Homo sapiens: one gene and its partners. The protein of the gene in region 2 interacts with the protein of the main gene of each other region in a pairwise test. Each region holds a gene or a part of one and is shown on either strand. Other genes may lie near its edges. The genes, in order: CCDC183, BFSP2 and CAGE1.

Region 1 (3,650 bases), on a different chromosome or scaffold from region 2:
ACAAGCTGCAGAACCTCGTGGTCAACTACTGCTCAGAGCTGTCGGATATGAAGATCATGTCCCAAGATGCCATGATGATCACGGATGAGGTCAAGGTGAGCTCAGGGCCCAGGGCTGGGGGCCCCCCAGGGCCAGCCCTCTTGGATCTTCGGATGGGGTCAAGGTGAGCTCAGGGCCCAGGGCTGGGGGCCCCCCAGGGCCAGCCCTCTTGGATCTTCGGATGGGGTCAAGGTGAGCTCAGGGCCCAGGGCCGGGGGCCCCCCAGGGCCAGCCCTCTTGGATCTTCGGATGGGGTCAAGGTGAGCTCAGGGCCCAGGGCTGGGGGCCCCCCAGGGCCAGCCCTCTTGGATCTTCGGATGGGGTCAAGGTGAGCTCAGGGCCCAGGGCCGGGGGCCCCCCAGGGCCAGCCCTCTTGGATCTTCGGATGGGGTCAAGGTGAGCTCAGGGCCCAGGGCTGGGGCCCCCCAGGGCCAGCCCTCTTGGATCTTCGGATGGGGTCAAGGTGAGCTCAGGGCCCAGGGCTGGGGGCCCCCCAGGGCCAGCCCTCTTGGATCTTCGGATGGGGTCAAGGTGAGCTCAGGGCCCAGGGCTGGGGCCCCCCAGGGCGGGCTCTCTTGTGTCTTCTGGCCAGGGTCTCTCAGGAGACCCCCATGCCCACACTGCCTACAATCCCCAGAAGGATCCAGTGGCCAGCCCGGCCAGCCTGCTCTGCTCACCCACTGGACAGAGCAGGTCCCATCCAGCACAGGAGCCATGAAGTAGAGGAGAGGGAGAGAACTGGCCGGGCCAGGGCGGGGGTCACCTATTCACCCAGTCTGTGCCAAGGTCCCTGCAAGGCTCTGGGGATACAGCAGGGACCGGGACAGGCAGACCCTGTCCTCCTGAAGTGGGTGGCACTCATCCAGTAGTCCATGAAGAAATGCCACACAGCCCCTGAGCCAGCTCAGCAGAGACAGGTGGGGTGGCAGATGGCTTTCCAGGAAGACAGTGCTTGAGCTGGGCTGAGGGATTGAACCCGCAAAGGTCAGGTGTGGCCAGGGCTAGGGAGGAGGAGGTACAACTTGGGAAAAGGCCCTGGGCTGGGAGGGGTGTGATACATGGAGCAGCGTGTGGCCAGGGCAGTGGAGGCTGCAGAGGCACAGGCCCCAGGAGTCCACGGAGGCGGCTGGGCTGGGGGCCCAAGGACTGACCTGGAGCCCTGGGAGGAGGTGGAGGAAAGATGTGACCAGGTCTGTGCTTCAGAAAGGGTGTACTCAGGCTGCAGGGACTGGAAGGTGCCAGGGCAGAAGCGCTGATCACCTGGGTATACCCGGGGTGGAGAAGGGGTGGCCAGGAGCAACGGAGCTGAGAACTCCTCAAGAGGCAACCCCACTAAGCGCTGGCAACGAGAGTGGCGAGGGTGAGAGCAGTGTCTGGGGTGCGTGAGCAGGGGTTAGCAGATGACGGTTTTAGCTGCCCAAGGGCACGCTGGAAGAGGCCAGGTTTTGGGGAAGAGGATGAATCTGTCTTCAGGCAGGCTGAATGCACTTCCGTGAGTTCTAGGTGGACCTGGCCAGGAGGCAGCTGGGGGCCAGCGGCTGGAGGGCAGCAGAGCGTCTGGGCTGGCACATGCTCTGAGGCATGGGCAAGGAGGGCCGTGAGCTGAGGGGCCACGGGCACAAGTGGTTTAGGAAAAGGGTGTGGCCATTGGCCGGGGATGCAGTTCCAAAGTCTAGTAAGGTGAGCATGGCCAACCGCCCGCTGGCTTTACTGCCATTAGGGGCCTTGTTGAGACAGCTCCCCAACCCTGTGCCCACCCGCATGTCCCCAGAGGAACATGAGGCAAAGGGAGGCGTCCTTCATCGAGGAGCGCCGGGCAAGGGAGAACCGGCTCAACCAGCAGAAGAAGCTGATCGACAAGATCCACACGAAGGAGACCAGCGAGAAGTACCGCCGGGTAAGCCCCAGGCCAGGGCCTGGCTGGCTGCCCATCCCCATGACAGCTGGGTGGACACAGGCTCAGGGCCACCACTCAGGGCCCACTCCCTGCCAAGGATGTCTCATCCCTTCCCCGCCCCCACCTCCCATCAGGGCCAGATGGACTTGGACTTCCCCTCGAACCTGATGAGCACGGAGACCCTGAAATGTAAGCGCTCAGCTCCCCACCTGCCCCCAGCCAGGGTCCCAAGGAGAGGCTGGCACTGATTCAGGCCAACGGATCAAGTCACCCTGAGGCCAGGTGTGACATGTGGTCGCCAGGGTGAAGGGAAGGACAGGTCCCTGCCTCTCCCTCCAGAGGCTGAGAGCCTGTAGCCAAATGTGGCCTCAGAGATGCTGGCCCCAGCACCCAAGGGCCCTGCACCAAGGGCCCAGTCCCCAGTGACTCTGCAGAGGATGAGCATCCTGACCCCTAAGCTGCCTCTGAGAAGCACCACCGGGCCCACAGTGCTCACAGTGCTGCGCCACTCACTCCGGGTCCACCTCTGCTCTGGGGCTGCCTGGGGCGTCCCTGCAGGGCTGGGCTGAGGAGGGAGCAGGTTGGGGCGGGGGCAGGCATCTCTGAAGGATGCCTGTGTCTTGGGTGGCCGCCCCAGCAGCTGGGCAGGTACAGAGGTGTCTGACAGCCTTACACAGAGCCCCTGAGCCATCCCTGCATGCTGACTGCCCCTCCCCTCTGCTCTGCCAGTGAGGAGAAAAGAGACCTCCACAGCAGAAATGGAATACCAGTCGGGCGTGACTGCTGTGGTGGAGAAGGTCAAGAGTGCTGTACGGTGCTCTCACGTCTGGGTAATGCCCCTGGCGCTCCCAGAGAATGGCAGGAGGGTGGCTGAGCCTCTCACGTCTGGGTAATGCTCCCTGGCACTCCCGGAGCATGGCAGGAGGGTGGCTGAGCTGGGCTGGGGTCTGAGGCACTCTGAAATGGACACACAAAGTGGCAACTCCCTCGGCCGCCCCAAATCCTTTTATCTTAATCCCATCTGTGTATCTGCGTTTATTATTATTAGGCCTTGAGCTCCTAACCACTGCCCTGACACAAGCTTGTCCACTGTCAGACAAGTGACTCAAGTGACACAACGTCCTTCAGTGATGATCTCCTTATCTCTACATGGGGTTATCTACCCTCTCTGCCTGCCATTAGGGTCGTGTGCAATGACATCCACAAAGCGCTTCACCCCTGCTAAGTGTGGTGGTGCACACCTGTGGTCCCAGCTACTCAGGAAGCTGAGGTGGGAGGATCGCTTGAGTCTGGGAGGTTGAGGCTGCAGTGAGCTGTGATCACACTTGTGAATGAGCACAGAGAAAGTGCACTAGCGTCTAGGAGGGGCCCAGAAGAAACCAGTTCTGTGAAGCCCCCTCTGCCCACCATCCTGGCCCACACCTGCTTCTCTCTCCCCCGGACTGGCCAGGACATCACTAGCCGCTTCCTGGCCCAGAGGAACACGGAGGAGAACCTGGAGCTGCAGATGGAGGACTGTGAGGAGTGGCGGGTGCAGCTGAAGGCCCTGGTGAAGCAGCTGGAGCTGGAGGAGGCCGTGCTCAAGTTCCGCCAGAAGCCTAGCTCCATCAGGTGCCCCGGGCTTCCGGGGCTGCGGGCCACCCACCCCAGTCTCACAAAGGCCCCGGGCTGCAGCCAGGCTGGGAGCTGGGAGTATACCCACTGCCAACAAGCC
Region 2 (3,650 bases):
GAGTGAGTCACCATGCCCAGCCTGGAGTTACTTTTTCTATATTGCACAGCCCAGCCTTTCAGCCATATTAAACTCTATTCCATCAAGAAGAACAAAAGAAAACTCCATAATTGAGAAATGCTCCTGATTTTTTCAGTGAATCTGGCCTCGTGGAGCTGCAGGAGGCCCCCACCAGGCCCCCACCCCTTTCCAGGCCTAGAGGAAAGGCCACCTCCCAGCCCAGTCCTTCCACAACACGCTGCCTTCATCTCACTTGGGGTCAGAGGCAGCCACTCTGCGGTCCTGGGCCCCAGAAATCCAGAGCTCTCTCCCTCTGCCCTCACTTAGGCCACTCTGGCTGGGGCTTCATGCCCACCTTTCCAGACTCTGGGCTCTGGTGTTCCGTGCTCCTCACAGCACTCCTTACCCCTCCTGTTTCTCCACCTGCAGCTGCCTCTTCCCCCCCTTGTCCACAGAACTCCTCCTGGTCCTGCAGCTCAGTTCCATGGCAACCCTCTGTGACTCCTCAGGGCCCATGCAGGGCCTGAGGCCTCAGAGCAAGCTCTCAGCAACTGAGCCCCAAGTTGGCACCTAGAGAGAAATTCGACCTCCTTAGCCTGGGCCCCAAACAGAGAATCCAAGAGAGACCTCAGTCACTCAATAGCACGGTGGGGATGTCCATTTTGGTGGCACTTTCTTGGATCAGGCTGGAGCAAGCAGTGGGGAAGGTCAGAGCAGGCAACAATTTCCATAAATGTTTGGGAAACAACATTTCCTCTTGCTTTCAGAGGGGGAGAAGAGTTGGAAAGGAGACAGGCTCTCCTCCCTGCCATCACCACCCCAGCTAGCACAGAAAGCTCCTGGGGCCATTCTGGGGAGTGGGGGTCCCCTGTCCCCTGGAATCTCCCCACAGCCTGTCTCACCCCCACCCAGAGGAGACAAAGACAGGTTTTCAGAAAAGCCAGGAAGAGGAGCCAGGAGGAGGGAAACAATTGCTGTCACTGTGCAGAGAGTCACATCATGGAAAGCAACACGAAACTAGGGTGCCAGGAGGGCTCACACCATGGCAGAATCAGGAAGGCCGTCCTGGGGAGGGGGGAATCTTCCTCATCCTTATATCACTATGTAAGTTTGGGGCCAGGGTTGGCTCCATGGGTGCACCACCAGTGAAGTCTCATAGGATGCTGCACTGGAGTGCAGCGATGCCATCAGAGATCACTGCAACCTCAAGCTCCTGGCCTCAAGAGATCCTCTTGCCTTGGCCTCCCAAAGGGCTTGGATTATAGGTATGAGGCACCGTGCCCAGCCAATAGTTTTATCTTTGAATTTGTGTTTTAAAAGTGAAGTCTTGTGGGACAATGGAGTATGGACCAGGGGCTCTTGAATGGTCCTACCTCCCTCTGTCTCCCTACAACAGGTTCTTGGCCCACCTCTCTGCCCCTGGGAGCCCCTTCTGACACCTGCTCCAAGCCCCTGGGTGGCAGCAACTGGAGGGAGAGGACAAGCCTCTTGCTCACCCCCAACCCAGGTACCTACAGGTGGCACTGAGGTCGTAATATTCTTGGGGGTTATCACCCCACCCCACCAGCAGGACATGGTACATCGGTCCAATGGCCGGTAAGAAAGGTACCGCAGCCATTGGTGGGGTATGCACATGCCCAGAATCATGGAGCGAGGCCTCTGGATGCCTATAAAGGTCTGCATGAGCATCCCCATTCCCCAGGGAGTGGAAATTAAATAGCAGATAAAAATTACCATAACAAGTTGAAACATGACAGAAGAAAGGAAAAAGCATTATATTTGAGTAACTTAAATCGCACTTTGTTCCTGCTCTTTGAACATGGGGCCCCACATTTTGCACTGGGATCCGCAAATTATATAGCTGGTCCTAGTTAGGGTTCATGCATATGAAGTTCTGTTTCAATTCCAAACCTCTCTCCTCCCACTCCTCAGCTGTGTTAGAACCTCCAAGCCTCGCTAAGTGGTGAAAACGGACAGAAAAACCCCAGGTGGCAACTACAGAGGCTGAGGAAGACCTGGGCCATTTCCCTCTCCAGCCTTGCTCTGTGCTCCTGACTTTTCTTACCAAATGAACGATGCTGACAATAGGCTCTGATGGCAACATCAGGCCCTTTCATCCTCAAATAGGCCAAACACAAGCTTGGAATAAGGCAGCCTTGTGCCTCGGAGCTGCAGATGAAAGGAGAGTGGGGTCAGAGGAGCAGCCCTCAGAGACCAGGTGTCAAAACAAAAGGAACAGCTGAAGCCAGGGGGAGAATGAAGCTGCCTGAGGAAGAAAGGGGAGCGCAGAGGTTCTAAATTAAGGAGCCAGGACATTTGTCTAGGTCTCCATGGGAGAAAACTGCAGCTTATACCTCCAAAGGATAAGGCTGTCAGCTGGAGAAAATGGGAAATCAAAATTGTTGAAAGGCAAAGGATTAGAGTTTAAAATGGACCTGATTTGACTATTTTTCCTGCTGTTCACAGCCCGTCTTTCTGTCCCTTGCACAGAGACAGCCCATACTCAGGGAATCTGCCTACTTGAAGAACATGCTGGAAACTCAGGCAATCCAGATCTGGGCCAGGTTTCTCCCACAGAACTTGTGGTCCTAGAAGGCTCTCTTTTTAGAAAAAAAAAACAAGAACTAATCCTTCTCCACTGAGAATAAATAAAGGCAACAGGGTTTGTTGTTCATGATTTACAACCTGGTATCCCTGGAAAGTAGGTGATGGGGGCAGAATCATAATCTGCAAAGGCCTGAACACATTTCCCCAAGAAAAAGTCACTCAGCCTGTTTCTTAATCAGTGCAATTTGTTTGGTCAGAGCAGGCCAGTGGGGCGGTTTCTTTGTCAGCCAAGCTATAAGGGACACTACAGTATGGTTAGAAATGTAGCTACCAGAGAAAAGTCCGTTAGAGAGATTCATTCCTCTTAGGAAGAGTGAGGTATATGATTGGAAGAAATATTTTGATGGGAGAGGGGGAGAAGGAGGCATGAGCCTGCTTCCCAAGGGTCTTGTTCATATAATACAGGTGGCCACTAAGCCTCTTTATTTATTTTTATTTATTTATTTTTTGATATGGAGTCTCACTCTGTTGCCCAGGTTGTGGCGCAATCTCGGCTCACTGCAACCTCCGCCTCCCGGGTTTAAGCGATTCTCCTGCCTCAGCCTCCCAAGTAGCTGGGATTACAGGTGCCCACCACCATATCCAGCTATTTTTTTTTTTTTTGTATTTTTAGTAGAGACAGGGTTTCACCATGTTGGCCAGGCTGGTCTCAAACTCCTGACCTCAGGTGATCCACCAGCCTTGGCCTGCCAAAGTATTGGGATCACAGGCGTGAGCCACCGTGCCCAGCCAGTCACTAAGCTGCTTTCTAAGAAAGGTGGTTTCTGGAAGTTGAATGTGTCTGGAAAGCAAGAGAACTGCTAAAGAAAACAGAGGGAGACTAGGGTGTGGCACTCAGGGCCTCTTTCCATGCCCCTCTCATACACCACACTCGGCCACTCTTAAACCTCTTAAGATCTCTTAAAATGTGAGTTCCATGTTGGGAAATGGAAGACAGGGGGTGGGGTCAGTTTTCCATGAAAACTAGGGAAAATTAGATGTGATGCAAAGACTGGGGATTTTGAAGCCAGACAGCCCCTAGCCTTGCCGCTTGCCATCTACCA
Region 3 (3,650 bases), on a different chromosome or scaffold from region 2:
TGTCTTGTGCCGTGATTCTGTTTCGAGGCCTTCCCAGTCATGTGGAACTGTGATCCAATTAAACCTCTTTTCTTTATAAATTATCCAGTCTCAGGTAGTTCTTTATGGCAGTGTGAAAACAGACTAATACAGCATTTTCTACACTTCTTTTATAAGTTAGAACTTTGCAGTTCACATGTAGGCCTTTACCCATGTGGACTTTATTTTGTATTTGGTGTGAGGTAAGGTTCTAATCATTTTCTGCATTGAGAGAGCCAACTGTTCCAGCACAACCAAATGAACACCCCCACTGGTTTATAATGACACCTCTATCAAATACCAGGTGTCCTCATATATAAATGGGTCTACTTTTGGACTTTGTCTTTTATTTATCCCACTGGTTTGTTACCCTTCTGCCTATAATACATTGTTATAATTACTATAACTAATAACTCTTGTTATCTAGCAGGGTAAGTCTCCACATCTTCTTTTTCAAAATTGTATTGGGTATTTTTTTTAACTTTTTCACTTCTGAATGGGGATGTTAGGATTAAGGTAGGATACATGAAATTGCATTAATCAATAGACTTCAGGAAAACTGACATCTTTACAATCTGAACATGAAACATTTAATTATTTTTTATGGCCTCCAGGAAAGTTTTATAATGTTTTTTAATGGAAACTTACACTTTTTGTTAGATTTATTCTTAGGTACCTTAGTTTGTGCTGTTACTGATAATAGTAAGTTTTTAAGAATTACTGTTTTACATTTGTTGTTGCTAGTGCATTGAATGCTATTGGTTTTTTAATATTAATTTTATATCTAGCTTTCTTCTAAACTTTCTTATTAGTTTTAATAGCTCATCTGTAGGTGCTTATGACTTTTCTATGTAGAAAAGTACATATTTGCAAATAATGATAATTACTTCTCTTCCTTTCTAATCCTTATAGCACTTATTGTCGCCCAGGCTGGAGTGCAGTGGCACCATCTCGGCTCACTGCAAGCTCCACCCCCTGGGTTCATGCCATTCTCCTGCCTCAGCCTCCTGAGTAGCTGGGACTACAGGCGCCCACCATCATGCCCGGCTAATTTTTTGTATTTTTAGTAGACACGGGGTTTCACCATGTTAGCCAGGATGGTCTCGATCTCCTGACCTCGTGATCCGCCTGCCTCGGCAGCGCTTATTTTTCTTACACCTGCATGTATTAAATTCCATAATTTCAATAAGCCTTGTCAAATCTTTTCATTTTAGTATTATTTGCAAGTATTAAAAATAAAGACATTTGTATACAGCATTTAGATTTACTTTAATAAACATGATCAGTGTAGGGCCCGGTGTGGTGGCTGATACCTGTAATCCCAACACTTTGGGACACCGAGGCAGGAGACTCACTTGAGCCCAGGAATTTGAGACCAGCCTGGGCAGCATAGTGAGATCCATTTCAAAAACAAAACCAAAAACATGATCAATGTATCTCATTATATGATTAAATCCTAAATAGCTTTCATCTGTCAATTTAGGATTAGAATAACAGATTTGGGGTTAAATCAACACACAGCTCTCTTTTTTTTTTTTGAGACAAGGTCTCACTATGGTTGCCCATGCTGCAGTGCAGTGGCGTGATCTCGGCTCACTGCAGTCTCAGCCTCCCGCGCTCAGGTAATTCTCCCACCCAGGCCTCCAAAATGGACCACGATGCCTGGCTAATTTTTTGTATTTTTAGTAGAGACGGGGTTTCGTCCTATTGCCCAATCTGATTTCAAACTAGTGGACTCAAGCAATCCTTCTGCCTTGGCCTCCCAAAGAGCTGGGATTACAGGTGTGAGCCACTGTACCTGGTGTTTTTTGTTTGTTTTGGTTTTTTTTGAGATGGAGTTTCGCTCTTGTTGCCCAGGCTGGAGCGCAATGGTGCAATCTCGGCTCACAGCAACCTCCACCTCCTGGGTTCAAGGGAGTCTCCTGCCTAAGCCTCCCAAGTAGCTGGGATTACAGGCATGCACCACCACACTCAGCTAATTTTGTATTTTTACTGGAGACGGGGTTTCTCCATGTTGGTCAGGCTGGTCTTGAACTCCCGACCTCAGGTGATCCACTTGCCTCAGCCTCCCAAAGTGCTGGGATTACAGGCGTGAGCCACCGTGCCTGGCCCCCGCTTTTTTTTTTTAAGAGACAGGTTCTCCTTCTGTTGCCCACTGGAGTGCAGTGACATGATCATAGCTCATAACAGCCTTGGACTTCCTGGCTCAAGCAATCCTCCTGCCTTGGCCTTCCAAAGCACTGGTATTATAGATATGATCCACCACACCCAACCTCAATACACATTTAAGGATACTTGTATAGTAGAAAATTTTTGTGTCTGAGTCTGAGACTTGATCACGGCTCATTCATTTAAAGCTACACAATCCTGGGCAAGTTACTCTCTGAGCCTTATTTTCCTTATCTGTAAAATGAAGATAAAAACAGCCCTTACTTCAATTTTTTAAAATTCTTATTTCAATAAGATTTTTTTGTGGATTAAGTGTGATGATGTATATAAAGTGCTTAGCACAAAACCTGGCTATTGTTACTATCACGGAACACAAAAAAAAGTTTCTCTCTTTTGCATATTGCTAACAAGTAGATACTTACCATTTAACAAATTGTCTAGTGTGCCATAAGCATCTTCACAAAGTGTGGATTCATACTCATTTTCCCTTTCAAAATTCTTTATTTCGTTCTGTATTAATAAAAAAGGCATCAATACTTCAAGCAAACATCACAAGCTTCTTCTAAAGGTATTTGCACATTGTTACATAATTCTGCTATTAGAATATTTCATTACATAGGTAGAATGTGCTTTCTAGTATCTTTCCCCAGCATGTATTTGGCTCCCTTTTAGTAAAACTATGCTAACAGAGTCCCAATATTAAACAACAATGTAACAAATAGCTTGTTATTTTAATATTTTGGTTTTTTGGTAAGTCAAATCATGTGACTATAAACTTAGGGATACGTGATAGCATATTTATGTATTGATAATTATTTGATGTTTATTAAATCTAGTCTAAACAGCATTAAGATGGTTATTTCAGTCTTTTAACACTGAAGATATATAAAACAGGCATATATCTTTGATGTATTTTTATAAATTCCTATTTAGTGGAATCAGATGTCACTGACTATCAAACGTTTAGCACAACACTCATGAAGATATTGGGACATTACAATCTTTTATTTTTTAATAAAGGGAGCTAGGCATTTTCATGAAGACAGGAAAGTTGTCATTTATATGCAGGGTGCTGTCAATGTCATTATGAATGACAACTGAATCATTTGCATACTGATGTAAGTGGAAGATGCATTAGACTAGAAGTCAGGTTCCTTGGGCTCTTGTCCTGCCTCTGACTGAATTGGTCACGTCCCCTGGCTGCACTCCTGGCTAGAAAGGATCAGTTTTAACACTGTGTGTAAAAATGTACCTTGCTCTCTCGCATAGGCTGGAGTGCAGTGGCGCGATCTTGGCTCCCTGTAACCTCTACCTCCCAGGTTCAAGTGATTCTCCTGTCTCAGCCTCCAGAGTAGCTGGGATTACAGGTGCTCGCTTCCATGCCTGGCTAATTTTTATATTTTTAGCAGAGATGGGGTCTCACCATGTTGCCCAGGCTGGTCAAAATGTATCTTACGCTAGCG

Evidence for each region.
Region 1: the proteins of BFSP2 (region 2) and CCDC183 interact in a two-hybrid assay, tested with the Homo sapiens proteins (one large-scale study listed by BioGRID).
Region 3: the proteins of BFSP2 (region 2) and CAGE1 interact in a two-hybrid assay, tested with the Homo sapiens proteins (one large-scale study listed by BioGRID and IntAct).

What each region holds. Positions count from the first base shown.
Region 1 is NC_000009.12:136,802,692-136,806,341, forward strand, and holds part of CCDC183 (coiled-coil domain-containing protein 183), read left to right. Parts: coding exon 1-95; intron 96-1,235; exon of another isoform or gene 1,236-1,810; coding exon 1,811-1,936; exon of another isoform or gene 1,937-2,070; coding exon 2,071-2,125; exon of another isoform or gene 2,126-2,665; coding exon 2,666-2,766; exon of another isoform or gene 2,767-2,893; intron 2,894-3,358; exon of another isoform or gene 3,359-3,386; coding exon 3,387-3,547; intron 3,548-3,650.
Region 2 is NC_000003.12:133,402,921-133,406,570, forward strand, and holds part of BFSP2 (phakinin), read left to right. Parts: intron 1-3,650.
Region 3 is NC_000006.12:7,383,176-7,386,825, forward strand, and holds part of CAGE1 (cancer-associated gene 1 protein), read right to left. Parts: intron 2,698-3,650; coding exon 2,610-2,697; intron 1-2,609.